Homo sapiens: one gene and its partners. The protein of the gene in region 3 interacts with the protein of the main gene of each other region in a pairwise test. Each region holds a gene or a part of one and is shown on either strand. Other genes may lie near its edges.

Region 1 (4,455 bases), on a different chromosome or scaffold from region 3:
CTGCAGTGAGCCGTAATTGCACCATCACACTCCAGCCTGGACAACAGAGCAAGACCCCGTCTCAAAAAAATGACAGCCACAACTGATTTCCCAGTGAGGCTATGGCCAAGGCTGGATGACCGTTGTGTGCCACTCTGTGTGTGCCCATCCATACCACTGTCTTGGGGAGGCCAAGGTCAGCCAGGTGGAGAAGTTGCCAGCCATCCACTAGACCAGGGCCAGCAAACTCAGTCCAATCCTGCCGTTCACCTGAGTGTCGTCTGTGGGTGCCTTTGTGCTTCCACGGCACAGTAGGCAGTTGCCAGAGACCGTGGCCCGCAAAGCCGGTAACATCTCCCACCTGGACCCTTACGGAACACGTTTGTCGGGCTCAGCGCCTGTGCTCTGCCGAGAGCTTCTCTCCGGGAGCAGTGGCATTTGTCTGCGGCCTCTGTGCTGAGGCACGTGGACCAGGACCAGGTGGCCACGCCCTGCAGAGCGCGGCGCTGAAGCGCAGAGGTGCACTCAGTTCCTCCATTGTGGCCTTTCTTACTCTGTACTGACTGATTGCCTTTGATCCATATCATTAGCGGTGTCTCCCATTCCTGGGTTCTATGCAGTGTAGCCACGGCATTTCATCATATTTTAAGGATAATTTTTGTTTTGCATCTTAAGAAAATTCTTGAGAGTCCACTCATATAAATTTCATGTGTCATATTGAAGAATAATTTGTCCAGTGGAATGGGAGAGTAATAAAACCACCGCCAACCGAGGAGGCTTCATATGCTTATGGCTTTTCCAAGTGCTCATAAATGCCTTCTCTATTACATGTTTTCTGAACATATTTTCCTTTACTGGAACAGCAGTTGCCCAGATAAGCCAAGGCTTAGAAACGAGCCTCTGAATGCAGTTGCTAATTCACGAGCTTCAGGGTCGTCACTTTTAAGGGCCTTTTCTACCTTGTTGGGAAGAAACAAGCCCTAGAAGTCCTGAGTGAAAAGCAGCATGGTGAGAACATTCCAGTGCACAGCAAGGGCCTCGAATCCAGGCCGGTGAAGAGATCACGCATGGGCAGCAGAGCCGCACGTGCCGCTCAGGTGACCCGTTGCTAGTGGGTCCTGGCAACCACACACGGGGCTGTTATGCTTTGGTCACCATGGAAATTCCCGGGAGGTGCCAAGTGTCTGGGCTTTGTTTTCCAACAGCTGAAAGACGATGCAGTTGCCCTGGTAGACGTGATCGCTCCTCCTGACTTTGTTCTGGACTCACCGATTGGCAGAGCCGACGGCGAGGTAAAGGGAGGACAGGGCCTCACGGGAGTGCCCCAAGGGTTGATGGGCATTTCTGCGGAGCTGAGATGCTCCTGTGGGTCAGGGGTCTGGTGTCTTCTGGAAAGTGGTCACACATGGAGGAGCTTCTTGGGGAGGGCCCGGGACAAGTCAGGACTGTCTCACTCTGGTGCTTCCCCATGCTGGCTCTGTGGTTGCAGGGGACTTGCCCATCCCCTGCCTGCCTTTTCCTCCCGAGATGGGGTGGTGGCACTGCCCGCCTGCACAGGCAGAGGTTGGAGGTCCACACACTGTGACCTCTGCCCTCCTCCCACTCCCCCCGGCCTCCCCGGTCCCAGGTCTTACCCCCATCTGACCATGCTCCTGGCCCTGCAGGCCTCTTCCCCCATCCCTGTCCTGGAATCCCCAGGCCCCTCTGTCCCCTCTGACCATCCATGGTTGTCACCGGGGTTACTCTCCCCTGCCCCGCTTTCCCCCAACCGCCTCCCTGTGGCTCCTCAGCTCTCCTCCTGCCCCCCATGTTCCATAATGATTCCTTCATAGCAGATGGGGTCAGGCCGCCCCCCTGAGGGAGCCTCCACCAGCCTCCTCGACTGCCTGCCACGCCCCAGCCCCACACAGCCACTGAATCCTTCCAAGGCCCTTCACCCCACGCTCCCCTCCTGCCCACCAGATCTAGCCTTACTGGCCTCCCCGTCTGTCGCGCCAGGCCCATGCCCACCCCAGGGCCTTGTGCCTGCTGCTCGGGCTGCCTGGAGTGCCTTCCATTCTTTCAGTATAAGCTGACTATTGCTGCCTTGGAGAGGCCTTCTCTGGCCTCCAGCTGAGGCAGTGCCCCCAGGCACTGTAGTGCTGCCCTTGCTGGCCTCATCACTGACCTTGTGTCTCCCTCCCACCTGATGATGCCCTCGAGGAGCGATGCTCACAGGTCCACTGGGTGCCTTCCAGCACCCCACTGCTTATGGGGCTGTGTCTGTCTTCTGCTAGAGGGACTCGGCGTGTCAATGCTCATGTCCCATGCCTGAGGTCCCCTGGCTGTGAGTCACAGAGGGGTTTGACCCCATCCCTGCCCCCTGGCCCCGCAACTGAGTTATTTCTGCTGAAGCACCTGCTGAAGCACCTGGGTCTCTGCCCAAATGGAGATTGAGCCTTAGTGGGCAGGACCCTCCCTCAGTCCTCAGGGAATGCTGAAGTCTGTACATGAGCCCTTACCGGCTTAGCCAGGGAGGGCCCAGCGCCTGGCCTCAGCGCGGCCCAGGCTACACCTGGGTTGGGCTAGGTGTGCCAAGAGGCAGGTAGTGCCAGGAGCCGGGTGGGCAGGGCAGGAGGTGAGAGTTCCCCGTAGTAGGAGAGGCAGGGATGGTCATCTCTGCAGAGGGCCTGCTGTCCTGCATCGGGGACTGACCACTGACCATCCCCAGAGCCCATACAGCCCAGATGATGACTGCCGCTGAGAGCTGAGAGCCAGAGAAGCCCAGTGGGTTTCCCAGCCAGGGAGTGGCAGAGCCAGGATTTGAAGAGACTGTGCCCTGCTGTAGGGAGAGAAGACTTGGCGGGAGCCTTGGGTCCTGGGGGAGCGCATAGGAGAGGGACTTGCCCTACCCACCTTCCTGGGAGAGGCAGTCTCCCCAGGAGGTGGGGGCTCACCAGGCAGACAGGCATTCGAAGGGACACTGGAGCCAGACCCGCCATGGAGGACCCCCAAGCACACGGGACTGTCTGCCCCGTGCAGGAGAAGCCGGAGCGGCCTTGAGCGTCTACCTGCTGTGCCTTGCTCTGCAGAGGCAGGCCCGTCTCTGAGGCAGGGAACGACCAAGGAAAGGAGAGACCTTGCCCATGATGGAGGGGCCCCCTGGCTCTGGGTTCCATAGTTAAAACCAGAGCCAGCTGGAGGTGTCGCTGGCAGGATGGTTTATTAAACGTGCATTCCTGGCTGAGCATGGTGGCTCACACCTGTTATCCTAGCACTTTGGAAGGCTGAGGCGGGCGGATCCCTTTAGCCCAGGAGTTTGAGACCAGCCTAGGCAACATACTGAAACCCCATCCATAAAAATTACAAAAACTGAGGTGAGAGGATCCCCTGAGCTTGGGGAGGTCGAGGCTGTGGTGGGCAGTGATCGCGCCACTGCACTCCAGCCTGGCCAACAGGGTGAGACCTCATCTCAAAAAAAAAAAAAAAAGTGCATTCCTTCCAGTTGCAAGGAACTGGTGTATTAACCAGGAGCTGCCAGGTGAGAAATTCACTATAAGCGAACAAACAGAGCTGCAGGGGAGTTGAGACCATCCTTAAATCAAGCCCGCTGCTCCAAACTGTGAAACATAAGCTGGAACCTAGGCCCTGTGGAGCAGCAGCCTGGGTCTGTGTCTGTGGAGCCCAGAGTAGCAGAGTGGGGAGGAGGGGTTGCTAAGTGCATTTAGCGGGTGCAGGCAGAGGGGTTTCTTCTCAATAAAATGGGTCAGCGTAAGCTGGATACACAATAGACCACCTCCCCAGGCCCTGGAGATGGTCTGGGCTGCCCCTTTCCACCCTGCACGGGTGAAGTGTCTGCTCAGCTGCCCTTCGCCCTTCATTTGTACAACCTTCCTCCAAGACAGGAGCGTCTCTCCCCATCTTCCCAGTGAGGCCACTTAGGCTGAGAGCAGTGAAGTCTGCACCTCCCGTAGGGGAGTGCTGGCCCGGGGCAGGACCAGAGGAGCAGGGTGTGGTGGCCCAGGTCCAGAAATCAGCCAGTAAGGGCCACTCGGCGAGGGCATCCTGCTGCTGGTGGCCACGTGCCACCTGTGCGGCCTGTAGCGGCCTGGGGTGTGAGAGCAGATTTCAGAGCAGCAGTCGATGCAGCCTTGCAGCATCCTGCGGTGGCTGCAGTTACTAAGAAACAGCGTGTCCACTGCCACGATCAGTTCTTTTTTTTTTTTTTTGAGATAGGATCTCACTCTGTCACCCAGGCTGGGGTGCAGTGGCATAATCTCGGCCCACTGCAGCCTCAACCTCCTGGGCTCAAGTGATCCTCCCACCTCAGCCTCCCAAGTAGCTAGAACTACAGGTGAACTCCTCCATGCCCAGTTAATTTTTTGCTTTTTTTTTTTTTTTTTTTTTTTTTTTTGTAAAGATGGGGTTTCGCCGTGTTGCCCAGGCTGGTCTCAAGCTCCTGAGCTCCAGTGATCTGCCTTCCTCAGCCTCCCAGAG
Region 2 (4,455 bases), on a different chromosome or scaffold from region 3:
AGGCTGTGCATGTATCTTTCATTGCAGGTCAGACACTCGCATGATAAGAGCTTGTGTCTGTTTTTCCACAACTTCAGCGCTCTCTCTACAGGAGATAAGACTCTCATTCAGGGCAATCTTAGCAGTTTTGAGCCTCAGTATCTTCTTCTGAGGCTGAGAGACAGAATCCTTGAGTTCATCATTTTCTTTCATCACTTTTTCCACTGCACTTAGGAGCAACTGACCAGCTTCATTATGTTCCTTGGTTCTCCACATATGGTCCAAGGTATTATGTATAGAGTCACTAAACTCCTTGCTTCCCACAAGCAGTGAATCAGGAGTGTCAAATGCATTTATTTTGCATAACCCTCTAAACAGTTCACACCAGGGACTATCAGTGTTCTCTATACTATTAGAATTAGAGTTTTTAACATTTTTGGGTCTAATCACATTAAGCAGCCAACTCCAGAAACCCCAAAACCAATGAAAGAACTCCATCCTTAATATTCTGTTCCTCTGGACCCCATTCCTGGTACCAAAATCTGAATTAGGGTTCTCTAGGGGGACAGAGCTAATAGAATATATATATATATATATATATATATATATATATATATATATATATATATGTGTGTGTGTATATGTATATATACACATATGTTTCCTATATATAGTATTCATATAATATATACTATATATAAACTAATAGGATATATATATTTTATATATTATATATGTATTAAACTAATAGGGTATATACATAAAATATATACTACATATAAACTAATTGTATATATACTTTATATCCTACTATATATATACAGTATATCTTAATTATATATAAATATTAAATATATGTAAAATACTTTATATATAGTGAATGTTTATATATATAAAGGGGAGTTTATTAAGTATTAATTTACATAATCAGAAGTTCCCACAATAGACTGGGCATGGTAGCTCACGCCTGTAATCCCAGCAGTATGGGAGGCCAAGGCAGGCAGATCACTTGAGGTCAGGAGTTCGAGATGAGCCTGGCCAACATCGTGAAACCTCATCCCTACCAAAAATACAAAAATTGGCTGGGTGTGGTGGCACAAGCCTGTAATCTCACCTACTTGGGAGGCTGAGGCAGGAGAATCTCTTGAGCCCAGGAGGCGGAGGTTGCAGTGAGCCGAGATCATGCCACTGCACTCCAGCCTGGGCAACAGAGCCAGACTCTGTCTCAAAAAAAAAAAAAAAAAAAAAAAGATCCCACAGTAGGCTGTCTGCAAGCTGAGGAGCAAGGAAGCCAGTCTGAGTCCCAAAACTGAAGAACTTGGAGGCCAATGTTCCAGGGCAGGAAGCATCCAGCACAGGAAAAAGATGTAGGCTGGGAGGCTAAGGCTAAGCCTGTCTCTCCTTTTCACGTTTTTCTGCCTGCTTTATATTTTCTGGCAGCTGATTAGATTGTGCCCACCAGATGAAGGGTGGATCTGCCTTCCCCAGTCCACTGACTCAAATGTTAATCTCTTTTGGCAACATCCTCACAGGCCCACCCAGGGTTAATACTTTGTGTCCTTCAATCTAATCAAGTTGACACTCAGTATTAACCATCACACATATGTTGTAGTTTTGCAAAATGTGACAGCAAGGGAAAATATAGCTATTTAAAGAAACACAGTAATGCTATCATTTAGAAAATAAACTGATTGGAGTCCCTGGATCATAGCTTGGCTTCAACTCTCTCAAGTTTACAAGAGCGTTGTCTGGGAAAATTAATCAACAAGGTTAGAAATGAGTTCTGGGAAACTTGGCTCACTATAGTCCAGGAACCAGGCCGAACTACAGCATGGGCCAGGTACTGAATAAATGGCAGGAATATAGTTAGGGCAGTAGGTGGCTCTAAATTTTCTCTTTTTGTTTCCCTGGTGTATGTCACAGCAGTTTTCTGTGGGGTGAAGTGAGTATCCTCAACCAAGGAGCTGGGCATGGAGAAAATGAGAGGAACCTCATTAATACATGGCAAGGATGACTTATTCTGGCTTTCTGTCCTGGTTGAAAAGATGAGACTGCAGAGATTTTTATGAAGATACTCCCAGTTTGTCTGTCTTTTGAGTCACACTGCTCCATTATGGCCATTTACCTTTTACATGTGGTACACAACCAGTGTTCTAGGATTTTTGTTCATAGTTCTCCTGGTAACGATCCATTTATTTCTCCCTGTGCTGGACCTCCTGTTGCTTGTGTCTCGTGTTTTTCTCTTTATTTTCTCACGTACTGGTGGCACATATTCTCCATTGACTATTTGAGAAAGGGTTTGTGGTAGTTAGAATTTTTTTTTAGTGCTTGCATGTAAGAAAGTTTTTTTATCCACAGGCTGATTGATAGCTTGGCTGAATACGAACAGGACCTCTAGGTTAGAAATATCTTTCCTTTCGAATCTTGAAAACATTGCTTCACTGCCTTCAAATATTTAATCAGTTTTCCACCAAATTTACAATAGAATTATCATTTTATCCTGTAATTTTTTTGTTTGTTTGTAGGTGTTACAGTTCGAGTGCCTCAAACAACCACATATGTTGTAAACAATGGACTAACCCTGGGATCAACAGGACCTCAGCTCACAGTGCATCACCGACCACCACAAGTGCATACTGTAAGTGTTGATGCTTGGTTTTGCAAAATTCTCAACTGTAGAGGTATAAAATATTATTGTATTTGGCATTTTTCTTTAAAATGGTTATATCCAAGGGAAGTGTTAGGTCTTCCTGCTTTTTCAGAAGTTTATTTCTAAAAATTGATCTTACCATTATGAACACATAGTTCCTAGGGATGATGATCATTTAGAATCATTGAGTTTGCTTGTGGTGTACAGTGTACAAAAACAGGTCCACAGTTGGGGTATATGAAGTGAAATATAGACCATTTCTAATTCATAGTTAAATTAAAAAGGACATTTTTCATTTCTCCATGTGTTAATTTTATTCTTTCGTTCTAAACTATGCCACATCTAACTGCTACATTGTCATCAATTAATTGTTCTAAAGAATCCAATGATATTGGGAATTCATTAGTTAAGAGGTAACAGAGATAACCAAAGATTTCTCCTTAGATTTAGCCTCCAAAACAATGTCACATTATCCTGTGACACAATTTTGTCAGTGTTTGACTGGTATGAAATATCATTATAATGATGATGATGTTCCAGTGTTAGAAAAGTCAATAGGACTTCCTAAAGTTAGAGTCATGTTTTTTCATCATCTGGCCTTAACCTACCTTTCCAGATTTTTCTTCATGTACCCTATGTCCAAGAAAAAGTTAATACTTGTTCTTGTCCATACGTCCCCTCACTTTACTGTCCACATGCCTTTGCTCATGCTTTATTTTTGGCTGAAAGGTACATGATTATTTCTGCATCTCTGGATCCTCCTTCACAGTTGAGTTTAAATATCACCTTTTTCTTGTAAATTGGCCAAGAATATAGTACACATTTAGTGTTAATGTGCTTATTTATAAATAACTTAAAAATGAAAGTATATTTGTATTCTCCAATTTTATATGATCTTGGTTGCCATACATGATATTTAAAAATGTTACATCATACTGAAATGATAATCTGTAACATAGATAATTCAATCATAAATTATTTTGTTAGAAATAGATCATTACTTCCGTGTTCCTCAAAATGATGTTCCGTCAGCAGGGGCTTTTTATTTCCTAAGAAAAACTCAAAATATTTTAGGTCTAGGAAGTATAGTAGGAATAACCTCAGCATCATTGTTTGTAGCATGATTCATTACAAAACCCCAAATAGAACTTGCCAAATTTGATATGGTATTTGGTATTTCCTAGAATTCTTGATATAAAATGATACTTCTACGTATGTTCTCTAAGGTGTTTTAATTCTAACATTCTAAAATAGTTCTTTTTGCAATCATCATTAATCAGTGTGACCTGTTTCTTCAGGAGCCCCCACGCCCCGTGCACCCAGCACCCTTACCAGAAGCTCCACAACCACAGCGTCTGCCCCCAGAAGCTGCCAGCACATCTCTGCCTCAGAAGCCACACTTGAAGTTAGCACGCGTTCAGAGTCAAAATGGCATAGTACTGTCATGGAGTGTCCTGGAGGTGGATCGAAGCTGTGCCACTGTTGATAGCTACCATCTCTATGCTTACCATGAGGAACCCAGTGCCACTGTGCCCTCACAATGGAAAAAGATTGGGGAAGTCAAGGCACTTCCCTTGCCCATGGCATGTACTCTCACCCAGTTTGTATCTGGTAGCAAATACTACTTTGCAGTACGAGCCAAGGATATTTATGGACGTTTTGGGCCTTTCTGTGATCCTCAGTCAACAGATGTGATCTCTTCTACCCAGAGCAGTTAAACCTTGGAGCCTTTATATTTTCCTCTTTTAAAATTTCCACCTTTTGGTCTTGTTTTTAATCTTGTGCATGATACCCCATGTAAAATCCACCTTGTGCAAGATTTCTTG
Region 3 (5,410 bases):
TCATCTGTCTCTGATCCCCCTTTCTAGTCTCTCCACCATTTCCCCTAGCTCATCCTAAGACTGACTTGTTCCTTGGAGAACTGCGTGGGATCTCTGGGCGGGCAGTAGACTCAAGAAGTAGTCTGCATGTCGGGGGTGGACATGTGGTAATGAACACATGCTCATTACTCCCATTGTGACCTGACCAGGGCCACTGCTGTGTTGCAGGGTAGTCCAGGAAGGGGATGTTCTATGTGTGCCAACAATTGGGCAAGTAGAGATCCTGGAAGGAAGTCCAGAGAAACTGCCCAGGTATGCAGCTGCCTTCTGTCCTACAGCTGGGATTTGTAACCTGGGTGCATGAGTTCTACAATCCCCTCCCTGCAAATCATGTGTAATTTGTGCCCAAGAGGATTTCGTTGTCATGTATTTTGTGTGTGCGTGTGTGTGTGTAACAGGTTCTTGCTCTGTTACCCAGGCTGGAGTTTAGTGGTGCAAACACAGCTCACTGCAGCCTCTACCTCCATGGCTCAAGTGATCCTCCCACCTCAGCACTGCCTCTGCCCCAGTAGCTGGGACTACAGGTTCGCATCACCACGCCCAGCTATTGGTTTTTGTATTTTTAGTAGAGATAGGGTTTCGCCATGTTGACCAGGCTGGGCTCGAACTCTTGAGCTCAAGTGATCTGCCTGCCTTGGCCTCCCAAAGTGCTGAGATTACAGGTGTGCACCACTCACCCCCAGCCTGTGTACATTTTTTTGGAGAGAAAATTCACCTGTCCTTCAGTTCCCAAACAAGTGTATGACTGAAGAAAGGTTAAGAACCAGTCAGGCATGGTAGTGCATACTTATAATCCCAGCTACTCAGGAGGCTGGGCAATATAGCTAGACACTGTCTCAAAAAACAAGCAAACTAAAAGAACCACTCCCTGCTGGCTTTGGGAGGTGTTTATCCTCAAACTGACTGGTGGCCCTATGTAAAGCAAAGCACTAAGAAGAGTTTAGGCCAGGTGTGGTGGCTCACGACTGTAATCCCAGCACTTTGGGAGGCTGAGGCAGGCAGATCACTTGAGGTCAGGAATTCAAGACCAGCCTGGCCAATATGGTGAAACCCTGTCTCTACTAAAAATACAAAAATTAGCCGGGTGTGATGGTGGGCATCTGTAATCCCAGCTACTCAGGAGGCTGAGGCGGGAGAATCACTTGGACCTGGGAGGCAGAGGTTGCAGTGAGCCCAGATCGCATCACTGCTCTCCAGCCTGGGTGACACAGCAAGACTCCATCTCAAAAAATAAATAAATAGGTAAAATTTAAATTCTTTTCTTTTTAAAGAAGAGTTTAATGGCCTAGACCAAGACGGGATTCCTTCCTTTCCGTTCTTAGCCTTCGTGTTATTTGGACCAAGACTTGGGCCATACCATCCATATCTCAACGTAAGGATATACAGGCTCTGATTTCTGCCTTAACTACGGAGTGTGCACAAACTACTTCTCAATCCTATCTCTGAAAACAGGAGAGGGATTTCTCTTTTTTTTTTTTTTTTTTTGAGACAGAGTCTTGCTTTGTTGCCCAGGCTGGAGTGCAGTGGCGCAATCTTGGCTCACTGCAAGCTCCGCCTCCCGGGTTCATGCCATTCTCCTGCCTCAGCCTCCCAAGTAGCTGGGACTACAGGTGCCCACCACCACGCCCGGCTAATTTTTTGTATTTTTAGTAGAGATTGGGTTTCACCGTGTTAACCAGGATGGTCTCGATCTCCTGACCTTGTGATCCGCCCGCCTCGGCCTCCCAAAGTGCTGGGATTACAGGCGTGAGCCACCGCACCCAGCCAGGGATTTCTATTGTTTTTGAGAGGGCTACCCTGTCCTATCAACAGAGAATGAGAAATAGAGCATAACCGAGCCAAGAACCCAAAATAAGGAATCCAGCTTTTCTCCTCTTGTTGACTCTGACCACAGAGGTTCCATGTAAAATGGTGAGGCAAAGAATTGAGACACTGCTTTAGCCTTATGTGTAGGGAGGAAAATGTATAGCTCTGTATCCCAGCATTCCCTGTATTCTGGACTCATTTCCTGCAGCAGTTTACTAGAAGGAGAGCACAGCTGATAGATGCACTAACTCATACATAAGAGCCTTCATGTCCAAGGTCTGTGGCATAGCCAGCCTGGGTCCTCTGCCAGGAGAGACAGTCCTTGTTTGGAGTGCCTGATGTTCATCCCTGGTCAATATCCAGTGCTTGGTTCTGGCCAGTGCTCAGTACCCCCAGTCTCAGGGTGGTGGTGCTCTGTGGAACCCCATTTAGGCTCCATGTCACCTCTTCGAGGTTTTCCAGATTAAGTCCACGAGTCTGGTGGAAAATGCCAGGCTGGCACTTAGCAGTCACTTCCCACCTCTCTCTCCTATCATAAATTTAGCAAACGTCTTTGAGCTAGCTTTCAGTAGGAAAACTACAGAATGCCCACTCTTTGTACTTTCAAAGGAAAATAGGCACTAGAACCTCATGAGACAGGCTGGCAAGCCAGTTCTGTTCCTGAACTTCTATTGTCTCAACTCTGTAGAACCCTGCTTTCCTCCTGAGTGCCGAGCACATAGTTCTTTTCCCCGCAAGGAAAGCAGGGTTGGAGTAAGTGGCCCAATGGGTCCAAGGACAGATACAGATGAGCGTTTTAAGCTGCACTGGGCTTGAGAAGGGAAGCCCTGCAGAAGTTCCTGTGAGCCCTGGAAAGGAATTCCACTGTTGGTGTAGCCTCTTCATCCTGTCCCTGGTGCTCCACTTCCCCAAACCAGGCTGCATGGGAGCCAGCTCCACTATCACCTATCTGGCTGGCTGGAGCACAGCTCAGTGTTCCTTAGCAGTGTCCACATAGGTTCCAGAGCTCTGGCCTTTCTATTCACTGAGGTGGTCCAACCACCCTCCACTGAAGAAGGTGGTCTCTCCCTATGCCACAGTGCTGTCCCCCATCTCATTCCTATGCAGGGCTTCCATGGTGAGTCATACACACCATGACTCAGCTGTTGAGCTTGATCGAGATCCTAGGTTAGAGGCCCACTGTCACCTATTTATAATTAATTATAGGCAGATTCAGGCTTCCTGATGTTCCAGGTTTACTGTAGTACTTAGAAGAGTTTCATAATACTAACCTGGTATGCTTCCCCTCCACCTTGCTGCACTCTCACACCCCTTTGCTGCTAGAGAGAGCAGCTTTGAGACTGTGGGGCAGTGTGAGCAGAGGAATTTGCAGCCTGATTGGACCTTAAAGAGGACTAGGTTATAGCCTGACTCTGTCATTGCCTTGCTGCCTGAGGATTAAAGAGGGAAGTAGTTCATGATTTCTTTATCTGGAAAATTGGGTTAGTAGCTGTTCCTGCTACCCATCCTATTCCCCGTTAGTAGGTTGAATAACCCTAACTCACTATGACACTCGCCAACTACTGCGCAGCCCTGGTTATGCATCAGAATTGCTGGGGAAGCTTTCAAAAAATACAGGTGCCTAAGCCCCACCCCAGATCTATTGGGGCAGAATCAGGGTGAGACTGGAGCCTGTGCTTTTTTTCCTTCACAAAGGAAGGAGAAAGGTTAATTTTAAAAACATAAAATTCACACACCATAAAACCATACTTTTAAAGTATACAATTCAATTTTTTTATTCATAAGGTTGTACAGCCAACATCACTGTTTCATTCCAGAACATTTTCAACATCTCAAAAAGAAACTCTGCACCCATTAGCAGTCATTCCCTGTAGCTTCCCTCATAGGCAATGGCAACTGCTGATCTGCTGAATAGAATCATATAATATGTGAGAAATGTTTAGTTTTTAAAGTTACACAGATAATTCCAATGTGCAGCCAGAATACAGAACCATTATTCATCAGATGGCATTATTAAGGACTCCGCCTGCAATGAGATTTTGTGGATTATTGAGTAAGAGCCAAGGGACCCTTCCCCCTAGGGTTTTTGGGGCCTGGATGGCTGTGTATTTGAGGGGGAGACCGAAGCCAGTAGAAGTAATCAGATGATCCACTGCTTAGTGCAGCAGCAGCTTCTCCCATTGGTGTGGGTGGGTAGGCCACATGCCTGGAGAAACACACCCCCTCAGAGCTCTCATGGCTGTCATGGGGGATGCAGAGGGACAGGCATAGCTCTTGCCCTCAAGGTGTGTATGGTCTGTCAGGAAGATGAGAAAGTCCATCTGCATTCCTTTTCCCCACCATGACTCGGGACACGCTCTTGTGGTGCTTTTGTTTGTCCTCTGTGATTGAGAAACCTTGTCCTTGAGGAGGGGGGTTTTTGGACTCTGGATCTGGGGTTCATTGGGCCTTTTTCCTGCAGGTGGCGGGAAATGTTTTTTAAAGTGAAGAAAACAGTTGGGGAAGCTCCAGATGGACCAGCCAGTGCCTACTTGGCCGACACCACCCATACCTCCTTGTACATGGTGAGGCCCCAAGGATGGGTGTAGACCAGCGCAGGGGGTAGAAACGATTTTTAGAAACGAAAGCTTTTTATTACCTTTCACAGGTGGGTTCTACCCTGAGCCCTGTTCCATGGCTCCCTTCAGAGGAATCCACTCTCTGGAGCAGTTTGTCTCCTCCAGGCCTGGAGGCCTTGGTGTCTGAACTCTGTGCTGTCCTGAAGCCTCGCCTCCAGCCAGGGTGAGTGAGGTCATCACCCCAGGGTGTGAGAAAAGCCTGCTTAGAACATCCCTGGAGGAGCAGCAGCCAGATGGGTAGTTCCTAATGAACTGGCCAGAGTGGGATTGGGAGGACCTTCCTCAAACCAGTATGTCCTACACAAGGCCACCAGGCCACTCCTTTCTGTAAGCCAATTCCCAGGCTCCTTTCCTGGGATAACCTCTGTCCTCCAGGGCTGGCTCTGGAGGAAGAATCTCCAGCAGGGGCATCTGTTTCTGAGACTGCCCTTCCCCTTGGGGAGCTCACTGGCCATCCTGCACTTTACTGCCCTGGCCCTGAAGGACACAACTCCTCATACCAGTGGCCCAGGTGTGGACGCAGATCCCCACCTCAGTGCCACCACAATGTCTCTCAATACCATTCAGACCAGTCATAACGTTGAGGTTTTATTGGCAGCACAGCAATGCCAAAGGGAATTAATTAGTCTTTGGCTGTTGGATATGCTGGATGCCCCGGCCAGAGCACCGCAGGTGGTGTGGGAGACACAGCCTCACTACATGGGGACAGCCCTGTCCTGGGGTCAGGGAGGCTCAAGGAGAGAAAAACAGGGTATCTGCTTTCTAGATCTAAGGGATCTTGTGTTACTGGGGACTCTAATGTTTGGGCAAAATGAAGGAGACGAATGTCTGTTCTCTGGTTGCAGGGGTGCCCTGCTGACAGGAACTAGCAGTGTCCTTCTACGGGGCCCCCCAGGCTGTGGGAAGACCACAGTAGTTGCTGCTGCCTGTAGTCACCTTGGGCTCCA

What was found. The genes of interacting proteins can lie anywhere in the genome.
Region 1: the proteins of PEX6 (region 3) and ACOX3 come close enough for resonance energy transfer, tested with the Homo sapiens proteins (one large-scale study listed by BioGRID).
Region 2: the proteins of PEX6 (region 3) and ATF7IP interact in a two-hybrid assay, tested with the Homo sapiens proteins (one large-scale study listed by IntAct).

What each region holds. Positions count from the first base shown.
Region 1 is NC_000004.12:8,367,724-8,372,178, reverse strand, and holds part of ACOX3 (peroxisomal acyl-coenzyme A oxidase 3), read left to right. Parts: intron 1-1,184; coding exon 1,185-1,271; intron 1,272-4,455. UniProt on the Homo sapiens protein: Oxidizes the CoA-esters of 2-methyl-branched fatty acids.
Region 2 is NC_000012.12:14,493,727-14,498,181, forward strand, and holds part of ATF7IP (activating transcription factor 7-interacting protein 1), read left to right. Parts: intron 1-2,504; coding exon 2,505-2,617; intron 2,618-3,927; coding exon 3,928-4,347; 3' UTR 4,348-4,455. UniProt on the Homo sapiens protein: Recruiter that couples transcriptional factors to general transcription apparatus and thereby modulates transcription regulation and chromatin formation. Can both act as an activator or a repressor depending on the context.
Region 3 is NC_000006.12:42,968,884-42,974,293, reverse strand, and holds part of PEX6 (peroxisome biogenesis factor 6), read left to right. Parts: intron 1-207; coding exon 208-291; intron 292-4,306; coding exon 4,307-4,409; intron 4,410-4,492; coding exon 4,493-4,626; intron 4,627-5,308; coding exon 5,309-5,410. UniProt on the Homo sapiens protein: Component of the PEX1-PEX6 AAA ATPase complex, a protein dislocase complex that mediates the ATP-dependent extraction of the PEX5 receptor from peroxisomal membranes, an essential step for PEX5 recycling.